2 linked regions of the Homo sapiens genome follow. The protein of the gene in region 1 interacts with the protein of each later gene in a biochemical or structural test. Each region holds a gene or a part of one and is shown on either strand. Other genes may lie near its edges.

What was found.
Region 2: of the proteins of MAP3K3 (region 1) and PPP2R5D, one has a biochemical effect on the other in vitro, tested with the Homo sapiens proteins (one study listed by IntAct).

Annotation. Positions count from the first base shown.
Region 1 is NC_000017.11:63,688,126-63,695,866, forward strand, and holds part of MAP3K3 (mitogen-activated protein kinase kinase kinase 3), read left to right. Parts: intron 1-401; coding exon 402-469; intron 470-663; coding exon 664-756; intron 757-967; exon of another isoform or gene 968-1,050; intron 1,051-1,418; coding exon 1,419-1,610; intron 1,611-2,138; coding exon 2,139-2,287; intron 2,288-2,347; exon of another isoform or gene 2,348-2,867; coding exon of another isoform or gene 2,868-2,912; exon of another isoform or gene 2,913-2,955; intron 2,956-2,976; coding exon 2,977-3,108; intron 3,109-3,607; coding exon 3,608-3,737; intron 3,738-4,116; coding exon 4,117-4,294; intron 4,295-5,423; coding exon 5,424-5,652; 3' UTR 5,653-7,741. UniProt on the Homo sapiens protein: Component of a protein kinase signal transduction cascade. Mediates activation of the NF-kappa-B, AP1 and DDIT3 transcriptional regulators.
Region 2 is NC_000006.12:43,001,199-43,008,569, forward strand, and holds part of PPP2R5D (serine/threonine-protein phosphatase 2A 56 kDa regulatory subunit delta isoform), read left to right. Parts: intron 1-5,247; exon of another isoform or gene 5,248-5,264; coding exon 5,265-5,481; intron 5,482-5,712; coding exon 5,713-5,912; intron 5,913-5,997; coding exon 5,998-6,108; intron 6,109-6,215; coding exon 6,216-6,308; intron 6,309-6,736; coding exon 6,737-6,867; intron 6,868-7,002; coding exon 7,003-7,062; intron 7,063-7,168; coding exon 7,169-7,277; intron 7,278-7,371. UniProt on the Homo sapiens protein: The B regulatory subunit might modulate substrate selectivity and catalytic activity, and might also direct the localization of the catalytic enzyme to a particular subcellular compartment.

The sequences.
Region 1 (7,741 bases):
GAAAAACCTCACTTTAGAAAATAGGTAAGAAAGCAGCAGCCTATCAACGATGATGCTGTGGCTGTTTTTATTACTGCCCTGGGCAAAGGATTCTCTTGGAGCTCTTTGCCTGTTACAGAGGTGGGAAGAAAGGCCAAGGAGGGAGAGGGCTGTGCAGCCAGGCTGGAGTTGGGTCAGATGGGGGAGATTTACCACTCAGGGTGCTGTCAAATTTGGGTCACAGACTAGTGAAGGGAGGGTGGAGAAAGCAGGAGCTGGGCTCAGAAAAGGGCTATTTCCCGCAAAATCTGCTTCCCCCACCTAATGCTGTGGCAGGGGTTAGAAAGGGAGACTGCCTGGACGCCCTGCTTGGTTGCTGTGGAAGTGTGCGGGAGTCTGTTTTTTCTTTTTGTTTTCTCCAGCCCATCCTTCCGGAAATCACGAATGTCCCGTGCCCAGAGCTTCCCTGACAACAGACAGGAATACTCAGGTGAGTTCCACAGAGCCTGGGTGGGTAATGCAGGGTGTCTGGGTGGGGCCTCAGGTGGCTCTGCTTCGACTTTTCTGAGTCAGTAGCTCTCCTTGGGCTTGCTGCTTTGAGGTCTCAGGTGCCTTGGGGACTTGGGGGCTTAAGTGGCTCACATTGACCTACCCAGAAGCCAGTGATTCCCCTGTCTTACTCAGATCGGGAAACTCAGCTTTATGACAAAGGGGTCAAAGGTGGAACCTACCCCCGGCGCTACCACGTGTCTGTGCACCACAAGGACTACAGTGATGGTGAGTTCTTCTTCACCTGCTCCCTGCTGGCTGCCTCAAGAAAGGACAAGTTGCCATGGGGAGGGTGGGTTCGTCCATGCAGTGCCTGTATTTTCCTTCATTCCTGAGGATTTGTGGCCCAGACTTGAGGCATGGGAGACAGGAAAAAAACAAAAACAAAAACAGGGAAGATAGTATTTGTAGACCAGATGCTGCCACTGGGAACTCTGACCTTGTTTGAAGCCAGTGGTGTGCTCCAGGGGCACCATCTCTCCCATGTCCTCTTCTGCCCCACAGCAGCAGGTGGCCTGGGCCCTGTAGAGGGGTAAGGAGTAGGATACAAGGAAATCAGTGCCTTCGGGTGTGGCTTGGCCTTGCAAGCAATTGGGAGCCTGTTGGCCAGCCATACACCTTCCCTTTGGCCAGATCTCCCTGAACCAGACTACTTCCTAATTTCTGCTTTTGTCCTGATTCTTGGAGTGCTTGGGACAGCAGCCTCTGTGGAATGAGTCAGGTGGGAGTGCGGACGGGATGGGCTGGAGCTGGTATTATCTATCACTTCTGGCTGAGACCTGGTTTGTATATTCCGCCTTGTAGCCCGGGGTGTCTCAGACCTGGTTTGTACGTTCCGCCTCGTAGCCTGGGGTGTGACTTGCTCTCCTCTGGCCCTTGCACCCTTTCAGGCAGAAGAACATTTCCCCGAATACGGCGTCATCAAGGCAACTTGTTCACCCTGGTGCCCTCCAGCCGCTCCCTGAGCACAAATGGCGAGAACATGGGTCTGGCTGTGCAATACCTGGACCCCCGTGGGCGCCTGCGGAGTGCGGACAGCGAGAATGCCCTCTCTGTGCAGGAGAGGAATGTGCCAACCAAGTGTGAGGAGCTGTCCCTGGCTAGGAGGAGACTGCCCAGGTGGTCTCAGACAAGCTACGGGGGCAAACAGCTGGGCCCCTGGGACCCTTAGGCTCAGCAGGTGGTGGCTTTGGCCCAAATGCACCACATGGGATAAGCCTTGGAGTGTCTGAAGCCTGGCTCCACTATTGTGTGACAAGCCTCTTCTCCTCTCTGATCTTTAGTTTTTCCATGTTTAAACTAGGGAAGAGCACACCCTTCATCCCTGCCATATTAAGATATTTAGGGGCTTTGGAAGGAAATGCATTTGATCAATGCAGAAGAGCATTTAACCATGACTTCAGCCAATCCTCTGCTTCTTAGGACTCTGACTTCAGGTCCGAGTGACTAGGGCACTGGGCTTGCTCCAGATTGTGGTGGAGATGCTCTACTAAGAGATGATGGGTGCTGGGTGAGGGGGAGCCTGAGCCAGAGACCCTGTTCCTGGAGAATGAATGGGATATTCATAAATAATGTACACAAAGTAACTCTTTCCTTCTGCTCTCCTGTAGCTCCCAGTGCCCCCATCAACTGGCGCCGGGGAAAGCTCCTGGGCCAGGGTGCCTTCGGCAGGGTCTATTTGTGCTATGACGTGGACACGGGACGTGAACTTGCTTCCAAGCAGGTCCAATTTGATCCAGACAGTCCTGAGACAAGCAAGGTACACTTAACCCGTGGTCTGACTTCAGTTCCCTCCTTTCAACAAAAATGCCTGTCTTACCACACAGAGTAGTTGCCTGAGATGCTGTAGGTTGCTTCCTCTGTCATTCTTCCCAAACTCCCTTTCTGTCCATCCTGGTCCCAGCCACAGGGTGAAAGGACTGTGGTCTGAAGAGCACCAAGCACCTGGAGGGGAGGGATTGGGTGTAAGGAACTAAGCTGATGCCAAAGTACCAAGTAACCCAAACTGAGAGGTGATGACCTGTGACACAGAGGGGACTCCCTCCCCTAGACAAGTATCTCTCCCCAGCTCTCAGCCCAGGAAGGAGCTGTGGGGCTCCTTCACTTGGTCCAGCTCTAGAGGAGGAATCATATGGCCTGTCTTTGCAGTTCAGCTTTCAACGTCGCTTATACTTCAAGTTCTGTGGACAAACAGCAGTTACCTTAACTAAGCACCCACGGCCCCTTCTCCCACCTCCCTGCCTCCTTCCACCCATGGGAGTGCCACCATCCCAAGGCCTGCCCAGCATTGTGGCCAAGAGCTAGACAGTTAAGAGAGTCCCCCTTTTCTCCAACTGCAGTTCCCAAGGCAGATCCCTGTGAGGCCACTAACTAGGGCAAGCTGAGCTGAACCCAGGCGGGCAGAACTAGGGCCCTGAGAGCTGAGGCGACCACTGACCCCTCCCCTAGGAGGTGAGTGCTCTGGAGTGCGAGATCCAGTTGCTAAAGAACTTGCAGCATGAGCGCATCGTGCAGTACTATGGCTGTCTGCGGGACCGCGCTGAGAAGACCCTGACCATCTTCATGGAGTACATGCCAGGGGTACGTGCCCCTTGAATGCATGTGAGACACACACAAAAGAGGGCCTGACCTGGGGGCTGGGGCCTGCAGGAGGGGGGTCACCTTGGATAGGAGTTTGAACACCTGAGGCTCCAGAGGCCCAGAGGAGCAAAGTGAGGTGATGGTGGGACTTGGAGTCAGGAGGGCCCTGCCTCAGGTTGCAGTGGGAGTATGAGATGACAGCTGTCCTAGGTCCAGCACTCCCCTGAGGCATGCAGGGCTGGCCCACTGTCCAGTAAATGCAGCCTTCATCTGGAGCAGAGAGGCCTCCCTGCTCCTGGATTTGGGTGGCGCTCTGCTTGAGAAGGACTTGGGGTACTCTCTTTTCCAAACTGCCTGACAGCTCCTGGCAAAATGCCCTGCCCAGCCAGATAGGAATTGAACAAATCACTCCTTTGCTGCCATGCTGGGGGCTGGAATGGGCTTGCCCCTCCACCAGCCCTCCCCTGAGGGGACTCCTCTGACTTCTTGTGGCCTCCAGGGCTCGGTGAAAGACCAGTTGAAGGCTTACGGTGCTCTGACAGAGAGCGTGACCCGAAAGTACACGCGGCAGATCCTGGAGGGCATGTCCTACCTGCACAGCAACATGATTGTTCACCGGGACATTAAGGGTGAGCAGGGCCAGGATACATGGAGTCCCCAGGACCTGGGTTCAAGTCTACCATTGAGTGCCTGCAGGGGCCAATCACTTAACCATTCTGAACTTTCTGAAAAGTGGGACCCCAGTTGTTTCCCTGAGGAACTGGTGAGATTGGTTGAGCAATATGAGAGAATATTGCCAAGTTCCCTCTACATGTGGGCCTTGGAGATGGTCATTTTGTGCGGTAGATCTGAGACTCCCCTTTGCTAAATCCTTTGCCCTTTGCAGTTCATGTCTAATTCAGTGGTAGCCCTGCCCTCTCCAGCAGCTCTCAGTGACCCGGGGGTGGGGAGGATGGGAGAAAATGCAAGAGGGTCCAGGGTTGCAGCCTCTGCCCTTTCATGCCTCAGGAGCCAACATCCTCCGAGACTCTGCTGGGAATGTAAAGCTGGGGGACTTTGGGGCCAGCAAACGCCTGCAGACGATCTGTATGTCGGGGACGGGCATGCGCTCCGTCACTGGCACACCCTACTGGATGAGCCCTGAGGTGATCAGCGGCGAGGGCTATGGAAGGAAAGCAGACGTGTGGTGAGCACTGGGACATGCAGAACCCATTCTTCCACCCAGGCCATAGTGGCCCCCCATTAGAAACACACCCTGGGGACTTTGTGGTGTGGCAGGAGGGAGTGTGCCCAGGGCCCAGGCTGCAGTGTGTGCAAGGGTATTATTGGGTGCAGTAGCACACACACCACATGGGTGGTGCTCAAAGCACACTCCATTAGAGCTGGGAACTTAGGCCATGGAAAACATCCCTCATGTTTGCTAAATCTCTTAAGGAAGCAGGATCCACTCTGAAGGCCTGAAGGCCTGGACCAGTCTCTCAACAGGAGCAGGCTTCTGTCCCTTCTCCTAGCACTCAAGACAGTTTGCACTTGCTCGACATAACCTTGTGTCTATCCTCTGAAATGGCCCCTAAGTCAGGAGAGCTTCTCCCCTTGGAAAGCTATTGTGGTGGGCTGAATAATGGCCCCCCCAAAGATGTCCACTGCCTAATCCCTGGATCTGTAAATGTGATTGTATATAGCAAAGGGCCTTTGCAGATAGGATTAGGTTAAGGGTTTTGAGATGGATGGATTATCCTGGATTAAGGGTCCTTACAGAAGGGTCTCAAGAGGTCAGAGTGGCTAATAGGAGGTGAGACAATGAAAGCAAGAGGTTGGAGTAATACAAGGAGGGGACCATGAGCCACGAAATGCAGGTGGCCTCTAGAACCCAGGAAAGGCAAGGAAACAGGTTCTCCCCTCAGAGCCTCTGACAGGAACCAGCCCTGCCGCCACCTTGACTTTAGCCCTGTGAGACTGATTTTAGACCTCTGACCTTCAGAACTGTAAGATGATACATTTGTGTTGTTTTCCTGCCTCTAAGTTTGTGGTCATTTGTTAAGAGCAGCTATGGGTAGCTAATACAGTTATTGTAGAGTTCTTTCTGTCAAGTCTAAGTGATTCTCTTTTTCCTTATTTCAAGAAGTACCCAGGTGTGTGGTGAGTGTAGGTCCATGAAGCCCACGTGGACAGACATCCAAGCTGAGGTATCCCTCAGCTTGGCCTGTCCTGCACCTCAGCTTGCTGTGAGAAAGGCGCCTCTTTCTGCAGTGGTGGGCAGGACAGCTGGGAGTCCAGGGCTGGCTGAGGGGTGACACGGGGTTCTCTCTTTCCAGGAGCCTGGGCTGCACTGTGGTGGAGATGCTGACAGAGAAACCACCGTGGGCAGAGTATGAAGCTATGGCCGCCATCTTCAAGATTGCCACCCAGCCCACCAATCCTCAGCTGCCCTCCCACATCTCTGAACATGGCCGGGACTTCCTGAGGCGCATTTTTGTGGAGGCTCGCCAGAGACCTTCAGCTGAGGAGCTGCTCACACACCACTTTGCACAGCTCATGTACTGAGCTCTCACGGCCACACAGCTGCCGGTCGCCCTTTGCTGCATGGCAGGGGGCTGCTGCTGGGCTCAGTGAAGTTGCTGCTTCTCCCAGGCAAGGCTGTGGACCATGGAGTGGCAGCCCAGCCAGCGTCGGTCTGTGCCCCTTCCGCCACTGGGGCTCAGAGCCGGGGTGGGGTGGCTGCAGCCTCAGGACTGGGAGCCCCCAGCCTGTCAGATCCAGGAGCTCCAGTGTCCTGAGCTCAGCGTGGAGGGGTAGGGGCTGGGAACAGTGTGCAAGGCAGCCGTGGGCCCCACCCTCGGGGATGTGTCCTGACACTGCAATTGGCACCGAAGCCCAGAGGGTCTGGGGGCACAAGACTGACGCCAGGGTATGAAGAGTGTTATTTTCATTCAAAGTGTTATTTTGTTTTTCCTTCCAATGTCTGGAGACCACCAGGGCATCTCTGGGCTGGATGAGCTCCCACAAGCCTGAGGGAAAGGCCAGCACTCGCTAGCAGTGGCAGGCAGAGGCCCAGGCTGCCGTCCCCTAGAGTCCCAGGTTGGCTCTGCCAGTCCTGTCCTTTACCAAAGATGAATGAAGCAAATGTCATGCTGCCTTATTCAGGGAAGGAGGAGCCTGTCCTGCCTGTGGCCATGACCCTGCCTCTCCCAGGCAGGGGCCCGCGATGTGGAACTGCTGCCACTGAGGGGGGATCCAGTTTTGTCAATGCAGTTGTCTCTGTTTTACAAGTTGGAGTCACTCTTATGCTGTACCCAGTTTCTAAACTGGAGACTGTGTGTGCCCTCTGGGCTCTGAGTACCCCTGCTTTGGGCTTGGGCCTAGGCTGCATTGAAAAGAGCTGAAGGTTGTGGCCTTTGCGCTCCTGGCCCAGCCTTTGTTCCCCACTGGAGCAGAAGGGGAGATGGACGACACGGTCGGGGCATCTGGCCTGGCCAGTGCCCTGATCCCAGAGAGCCCGAGGAGGTGTCTCAGGCTGCCTGAGTCGTGACCTGCTAGGCCAGAGCCCACTCCATCTGGTAGAAGGGAAAGCCCATATGCTACCACCAGCTGTGTCCAAAACCGCCAGCTCTGTTCTTCCTCAGCCAGCCTCGCCCATCCCCTTGAGGTCTCAGCCCCTTTCCCTTGTAGCTCCTCCCCTGGAGGGGGAATGGCAGCAGGGGTTGGGGAAACAGCATCTCCAAGCAGCTTAGAGTTGGCCATATTTACCTCAGCCTGGGCGCTGGTCCTTTCTTCCGGCCCCTCCCCTCCAAAATGTGCCTATTGCTAGAGCTCCTCCCTCTCAACACCCAGTTTCCTTGGGAGTTGTCATTAAAGGAAAAAAAAAAAAAAAAAAGCCAGTGCCCAGGGATGGGCATCTCCAGGGAGCTGGGGATTAGTGCCAGGCAGCCCTGCCAGCCATGCCTACATCCCCATGGGCACAGAACAAGCCAAAGCCTTCGTTGTATGTTGACGATGCACTTTTATGAATGTAGTTTCTATCGCTGTTTTTAGCCTTTTCACATCATGTAATGTGAGGCCTTGTACTTGTTAATTTATATCTCAGATCATATTTGATGGTTTTTATATATATCAATTCTAGACTGTTACAGGTGACGGACGCCTCAAGAGAGAGAAGAGAAAATGAAAGCAGCTGGTTTTGCAGAAGTGTGTGTCGCATGCGCCAGTTGGGCCTGGACCCTCCTGTGTCCATCCCTGTTCCCCCAGGGGCTCTATCAGCCCCTGTACCCCACACTGCCCTCTGAAGACAACACAGGCTCCTGCTTCCACCTCGGCCCTTGCCCAGGGTGGGGCCTGGCCCTCATCTTGACCAAAGCTGCTGTGTGGCAGCTCGGCCTCTCTACGACCCCATCTTGGTGGCTGCACACTCTTCCTGGCCCGCACCCCCATCCCCAGTCCCTGTTCCCCAAGAGGATACAGAGCACGGTGCTGGCTGACTCAACTGTGCGTCCCAGGTTCAGGGTCTTACAGAGCTCCACCCCCTGGGGTCTTACCTCACTGGGAATGTGTTTTGAAAATGAATTTGAAGACAAGCCAACAAACCCTGCACTCCAAAAAAGCAAAACAGACCCTAATTTTTTTGTGCCAAAAACTG
Region 2 (7,371 bases), on another chromosome or scaffold:
GGGTGGAGTGCAATGACATGATCTCAGCTCATTGCCAAGATCAAGCAATTCTCCTGCCTCAGCCTCCCGAGTAGCTGGGATTATAGGCATGCGCCACCTCGCCCGGCTAACTGTATTTTTAGTTGAGTTGGGGTTTCTCCATGTTGGTCAGGCTGGTCTTGAACTCCCAACCTCAGGTGATCCACCTGCCTCGGCCTCCCAAAGTGCTGGGATTGCAGGCATGAGCCACTGTGCCCGGCCAGGATCCCCCATTTTTAAATGAGGATAATGGACTCAACGGAACATTTGAGTTGTGCTAGCATAGGAAGGAGATTCTAGGCTGCATTCCTAAAACCTGGATATGGGAAATAATAGTAATAGTAGTGGTGGTAGTAGAAGGTACCTCTTATAAAATGCTTCTTTAGGGCTGGGCACGGTGGCTCACACCTGTAATCCCAGCACTTTGGGAGGCTGAGGCGGGCGGATCATGAGGTCAGGAGATCGAGATCAGCCTGGCTAACATGGTGAAATTCCGTCTCTACTAAAAATACGACAAAAAATTAGCCGGGCGTGGTGGCACGCACCTGTAATCTCAGCTACTCCGGAGGCTGAGGCAGGAGAATTGCTTGAACCCGGGAGGCAGAGGTTGCAGTGAGCTGAGATTGCGCCACTGCACTCCAGCCGGGTGACAGAGCCAGACTCTGTCTCAAAAAAAAAAAAATGCTTCTTTAGTGCGTGACAGAGCCAGACTCTGTCTCAAAAAAAAAAAAAATGCTTCTTTAGTGCGAGGAACTGTTCATCTCTATCCTTACGATAGTGCTATAAGGTAGGTATGGTTGTCATCCCATTTTGTAGATGAGAAAACTGAGGTGCAGACTTTCTGGATATTACTCAGCTAATAAGTGGCGAGCCAGGATTGAACCCAGGCAGGCAGTCTGGCCCAAGGTGTTATTGAGCACCAAGCTCCACAGATAAGGGTTTGGTTGTTCTTTTTTTTTTTTTTTGATTCGGAGTCTCGCCCTATCACCCAGGCTGGGGTGCAATGGCATGATCTCAGCTCACTGCAACCTCTGCCTCCCGAGTTCAAGAGATTCTCCTGCCCCAGCCTCCCGAGTAGCTGAGATTACAGGCACGTGCCACCACGCCCAGCTAATTTTTTGTATCTTTAGTAGAGGCAGGGTTTCACCATGTTGGCCAGGCTGCTCTCAAACTCCTGACCTCGTGATCCGCCCGCCTCTGCCTCTCAAAGAGTTGGGATTACAGGTGTGAGCCACCGTGCCTGGCCTAGTTGTTCTTAAGGCAGGGAAATGGAGGCCTGAGGCAGAGGAGTGTCTGGATACACACCAAGTGCTGGCCCCCAACCTGCTTTTCTCTTACTACCACTTCCCCCACCCCAAGGTGCAACTCATCTGCCATATGTAGAAAGGGAGACCTCAGACCTCCAGATGCCTTGCCATGTCTAATACACGGGACCCACAGGCTGGACCCGGTGCTCCTCTCCTGTTCTCTCATCCCTAGATAGGTGACAAGTCCACATCATTGTTTTTATAAAAAATTCAGAGGATGCAATTAATAACATTTCTGTCTTCCTTCCCTCCCCCACCCCAGAGGATTTCAAGTTCTTCTATTATTATGGTAAGGAGTAAGAGTTTGGGATGGGAGCTGGAGAGGAGCGGGAGATGGCAGGTATGAGGCCAAGAGGTCACCTTTCCCTTTCCCTGTGGTGAGGGTACCCAGCTGGACATGGCCTCTGCCTAGTCCTATTCTAGACTCTGTTTGGGGGCAAGGGCTGTCCTGTGGTTTAGCTTCTTTCCTCTCCCAACAGGGGGCTGCCTGGACAGTCCAGGAGTACCTGTGGGCAGACAGCCCTGCAAATACCTGTATTTAGACTTCTGAAAATGGACTTCATGGGGCTGTAACACCTGTGTCTGGGAGCTATGCCTTTAAAAAGGGATAGCTTTTAGGCTGGGCACGGTGGCTCACACCTGTAATCCCAACACTTTGGGAGGCCGAGGCAGGTGGATTAATTTAGGTCAGGAGTTCAAGACCAGCCTGGCCAACGTGGAGAAACCCCATCTCTACAAAAAATACAAAAAGTAGCTGGCATGGTGGCGGGTGCCTGTAATCCCAGCTACTCGGGAGGCTGAGGCAGGAGAATCACTTGAACCTGGGAGGTGCAGGTTGCAGTGAGCCAACATTCTGCCACTGCACTCCAGCCTGGATGACAGAGCGAGACTCCATCTCAAAAATAAATAAATAAAATAAAAATAAAAAGAGATAATTTTAAAAATTAGCTGCATTTCTCCCATTATAAAAGCAGTATCATACTACACAATGGAAGTAAGGCAGAAAAAAAGCAGTGTCAGCTTGTAGAAAATTTAGAAATGCAGAAGTAATCTAATTCTACTACAGGAGATAGTCATTAACACAGTGGTGGACTTGGGCTTGTTCTTACCTTTTCTGAACCTCGTTTTTGGTTCTGTGCATGTGTTTTAATGTGAGCGAGCTCATTTTGTGTATCTAGTTTTGTACTGTATTTTTTTTTTATGTATGTATGTATGTATTTATTTATTTTTTGAGACGGCGTCTCGCTGTCTCCCAGGCTGGAGTGCAGTGGCGTGATCTCGGCTCACTGCAAGCTCCGCCTCCCGGGTTCACGCCATTCTCCTGCCTCAGCCTCCCGAGTAGCTGGGACTACAGGCACCCACCACCACGCCCGACTAATTTTTTGTATTTTTAGTAGAGACGGGGTGGATGGTCTCGATCTCCTGACCTCGTGATCTGCCCGCCTCGGCCTCCCAAAGTGTTGGGATTACAGGCGTGAGCCACCGCGCCCGGCCTGTGTATTTACTTTTTGAAGATGGAGTCTCGCTCTGTCGCCCAGGCTGGAGCTGGAGTGCAGTGGCATGAGCTCAGCTCACTGCAACGTCCGCCTCCTGGGTTTGAGCAATTCTCTTGCCTCAGCCTCCCAAGTAGCTGGGACTACAGGCACCCACCACCAGGCCTGGCTAATTTTTTGTATTTTAGTAGAGACAGGGTTTCACTGTGTTGTCCAGGCTGGTCTCAAACTCCTGAGGTCAGGCAATCCACCTGCCTTGGCCTCCCAAAGTGCTGGGATTACAGGCGTGAGCCACCGCACTTGGCCTTGTACTATCATTATTTAACTTAGCATAGGAAGCAATTTTCTGTCATTATGTAGTTTTAGGCCTTTTGTTTTATTTCAAAATTTTATCAGTATGATAACACATACATTGTTCAGATATTACTACTATTGGGGTTGGAATGCAACTCTTAGCTCTTTCCTCATTAGATTCCTTTAGATTTTCACATTAGATTCTTTTCCTACTTTAGATTAGATTCCTTTAGATTTTCACATTGGATTCTTTTCCTACTTTTTTTTTTTTTTTTTTGAGATTTAGATATTATCAATTGACTTTCTACCATGGAAAATAAGTCCTCATCATTCTTATGCCTTTCTGCAGACATTTCCCTTCCTCCAAAAATACCACCATTTTGGGCAAATTACTATGAACGTGAAAATATTTTTTACAACTAAACTATGTATTACATAGTTTTCTTTTCTTTTTTTTTTTTTTGAGGCAGAGTCTCACTCTGTCATCCAGGCTGGAGTGCAATGGCGCAATCTTGGCTCACTGCAACCTCCTGGGTTCAAGTGATTCTCCTGCCTCAGCCTCCCGAGTAGCTGGGATTACAGGCACCCGCCACCACACCCGGCTAATTTTGTATTTTTAGTAAGAGATGGGGTTTCACCTTGCTGGCCAGCTGGTCTGGAACTCCTGACCTCAAGTGATACACCCACCTTGGCCAAAGTGCTGGGATTACAGGCATGAGCCACTCACTGCACCTGGCCCATAGTTTTTATAAACATAATATTAACTCCTGATATTCCATTTATTCATTTTCTGTTATAAATGAGGTTGTTAAAAGTATTTGTGCACAAAGCTTTTTTTTTTTTTTTTCTTTTTGCCTGGCTACCTCTGTCTCCTCCAAAGCTTTTTTTTTTTAATTTAGGATTTTTATTAAGCTAAATTTCTAGTAAAGTCCTAAGACATGGGAATGAATTTCTTTCTTTTACCTTTTTAAATTTGAAAATTTTTATCTTTAGAGACAGTGTTGTTTTGTTGTTCAGGCTGGAGTGCAGTTGGTGTGATCATAGCTCATGGGAGACTTGAACTCCTGGGCGCAAGGGATCCTCCAACCTTGAGTAGCTGGAACTCCAGTAAGCTTCCTGAGTAGCTGGAACTGCAGGCATGTGCCACCACACCTGGCTAATTAAAAAAAATTTTTTGTAGAGATGGGGTCTTGCTACGTTGTTCAGGCTGGTTTCAAACTTCTGGCTTCAAGTAATCCTCCTGCTTTGGCTTCCCAAAGTGTTGGGATTACAGGCTTTGGCCACTGTGCCTGGCCTTTCTTTTACCTTTTGTTTTGTTTTTTTTTTTTGAGACAAAGTCTCGCTCTTGTCCCCCAGGCTGGAGTGCAATGGCATGATCTCGGCTCACTGCAACCTCCGCCTCCTGGGTTCAAGCGATTCTCCTGCCTCAGCCTCCCAAGTAGCTGGGATTACAGGCGCCTGCCACCACGCCTGGCTAATGTTTGTATTTTTAGTAGAGATGGGGTTTCACCATGTTGGCCTGGCTGGTCTTGAACTCTTGACCTCAGGTGATCTGCCCTCCTCGGCCTCCCAAAGTGCTGGGATTACAAGTGTGAGCCACTGCGCCCGGCCTCTTCTACCTTTTGATTGGAGACTGTCATACATTCAGTAAAGGATCTTAAGTGTACTGCTCAATAAATTTTAGGTATGTATCTGCCATGCACCACCTTGCAGGTCCAGTCAAGATACAGGATGTTTACATTACTCAGAAGGCTCCTCATGTCTCTTCTTATTCCTCATGTGTCTTCTTATTCATCATGTGTCTTCTTAGCAATACCCACCCCATTTCCCCTGGCAACGTAATCACTTTTTTGACTTCTGTCACCATCAATCTATCAATTAGCTTTACCTGTTCATGAACTGGAATGAACGTTTTAAAGGCTCTTGATGCACAAGCAGTGGGCATCTCTTTGGGTGATGTGACTTCTTGACTGCTCCCTGCCAGGGCTACAGCACAGTTATCTCTGTAACCCTGGCCTTAGCTCCTTCGGGGCAGGAGACAGCTGCTCACTGCCCAGGCCTGTGCAGGCATAAACAGACTTGGGGATGGCCAGGCCCAGGGTGGGAGGCATATCTTGGGAAGTGGATTTCAACAGGTGACTTGTTTGACCAGGCCCAGCCGCAGCCCCAGCCCCAGCCCCAGCCCCAAGCCCAGTCTCAGCCACCGTCATCCAACAAGCGTCCCAGCAATAGCACGCCGCCCCCCACGCAGCTCAGCAAAATCAAGTACTCAGGGGGGCCCCAGATTGTCAAGAAGGAGCGACGGCAAAGCTCCTCCCGCTTCAACCTCAGCAAGAATCGGGAGCTGCAGAAGCTTCCTGCCCTGAAAGGTACTTGGCAATTGGTCACAGGGGCTGTTTTACCAGTTCTAGTGGGCATCGGGAGTTGGTGGAATGGAAGTTTTGGGGTATTTTGCGGGGAAGGGAGTTCCAGAGAATGCGGGAAGGGGGTGCCAGGGAGCAGGATGGTGGCAGGGTGGGGTAAGGGAAAGCCCTTGAAGGCAAGCAGGGCATCGCAGTGAAGGACTACAGAGGAGAACCTGACTGCTGGGGCCCCCACAGATTCGCCAACCCAGGAGCGGGAGGAGCTGTTTATCCAGAAGCTACGCCAGTGCTGTGTCCTCTTTGACTTCGTGTCAGACCCACTCAGTGACCTCAAATTCAAGGAGGTGAAGCGGGCAGGACTCAACGAGATGGTGGAGTACATCACCCATAGCCGTGATGTTGTCACTGAGGCCATTTACCCTGAGGCTGTCACCATGGTGGGCACAGGGAAAGGACACAGGGGGGACTGGTGAGGGGCTCTGGAGAAGCCCAGGTGGAGCTCTAACTGGCCCTACCCCTCAGTTTTCAGTGAACCTCTTCCGGACGCTGCCACCTTCATCGAATCCCACAGGGGCTGAGTTTGACCCAGAGGAAGATGAGCCCACCCTGGAAGCTGCTTGGCCACATCTCCAGGTACCAGGGCAAGGGGGCAGATTGGCCGTGGCTGCAGGGAGTGGGGCACTTGGAGGCCTGCAAGTCCTTGGGAACATCCCCTCAGTGGCGTGCCTTTTCCCCTATAGCTCGTGTATGAGTTCTTCTTACGTTTCCTTGAGTCTCCTGATTTCCAGCCAAACATAGCCAAGAAGTACATCGACCAGAAGTTTGTACTTGCTGTGAGTCCCCGAGTTCCTGTCCTTGCCCTCTCTTTCCATTCCATGCCCCCTTCATCTGTGTCCCAGTGGCTCTTTCCCCTTAAGCTGAATATATTGGGTTTCATCCATGTCTGGTACGAGGAGGCTATAAAGGGTAAAAAACAAAACAAAACAAAACCCTACTCTGGCCTTAAGAAACTAACAACATAATGGTAGGAAACAAAAAAGCAACAGAGTACCTCTCTCAGGTCAATAGTGAGGCATCACTTTGGAAGTCTCAGTACAAATACAATAGAATCAGCAATATAATAGAATCACTGCTTTCTAAGACTTGCTGGCCCCCACTCCAGGGGACCTCTGCATTTCCCCTGGCGGGACCTATGTCACCCTGGCCACTGCCTTCCCTGGCTGCTGCCTCACTGGCTGCTTTCCCTCCCTTGTACCCCCAGCTCCTAGACCTATTTGACAGTGAGGATCCTCGAGAGCGGGACTTCCTCAAGACCATTTTGCATCGCATCTATGGCAAGTTTTTGGGGCTCCGGGCTTATATCCGTAGGCAGATCAACCACATCTTCTACAGGTGAGGCCAGGAGCCCAGGCTTAGGAGCAAAACCTTCTGCTACTGAGGTGGGGTGGGAGCAGGGAGGTGGGGGGACTGTACAGAATGCTGGAGGGACATCAGGGGTTGTCAAGAGAGCCATTTTTCTTCCCTCAGGTTCATCTACGAGACGGAGCATCACAACGGGATTGCTGAGCTCCTGGAGATCCTGGGCAGGTGAGAGGCCGGGTGGGGGCACAGATGCCTGAAAAAGGTTGGCAGGATTGGTGTACTGAACTTGGATCTGACCCTCTGGTCCTAACAAATGTCCCTTAATTCCTAGCATCATCAATGGCTTTGCCCTGCCCCTTAAAGAAGAGCACAAGATGTTCCTCATCCGTGTCCTACTTCCCCTTCACAAGGTCAAGTCCCTGAGTGTCTACCACCCTCAGGTGAGCTGCCTTCCTCCTTATAATGTCCAACTCAGGCAGCAGAGAAAAGAGCCGGCAGGAAAGTGTTCCAGCTGGGATAGGGGAAGCATAGGGA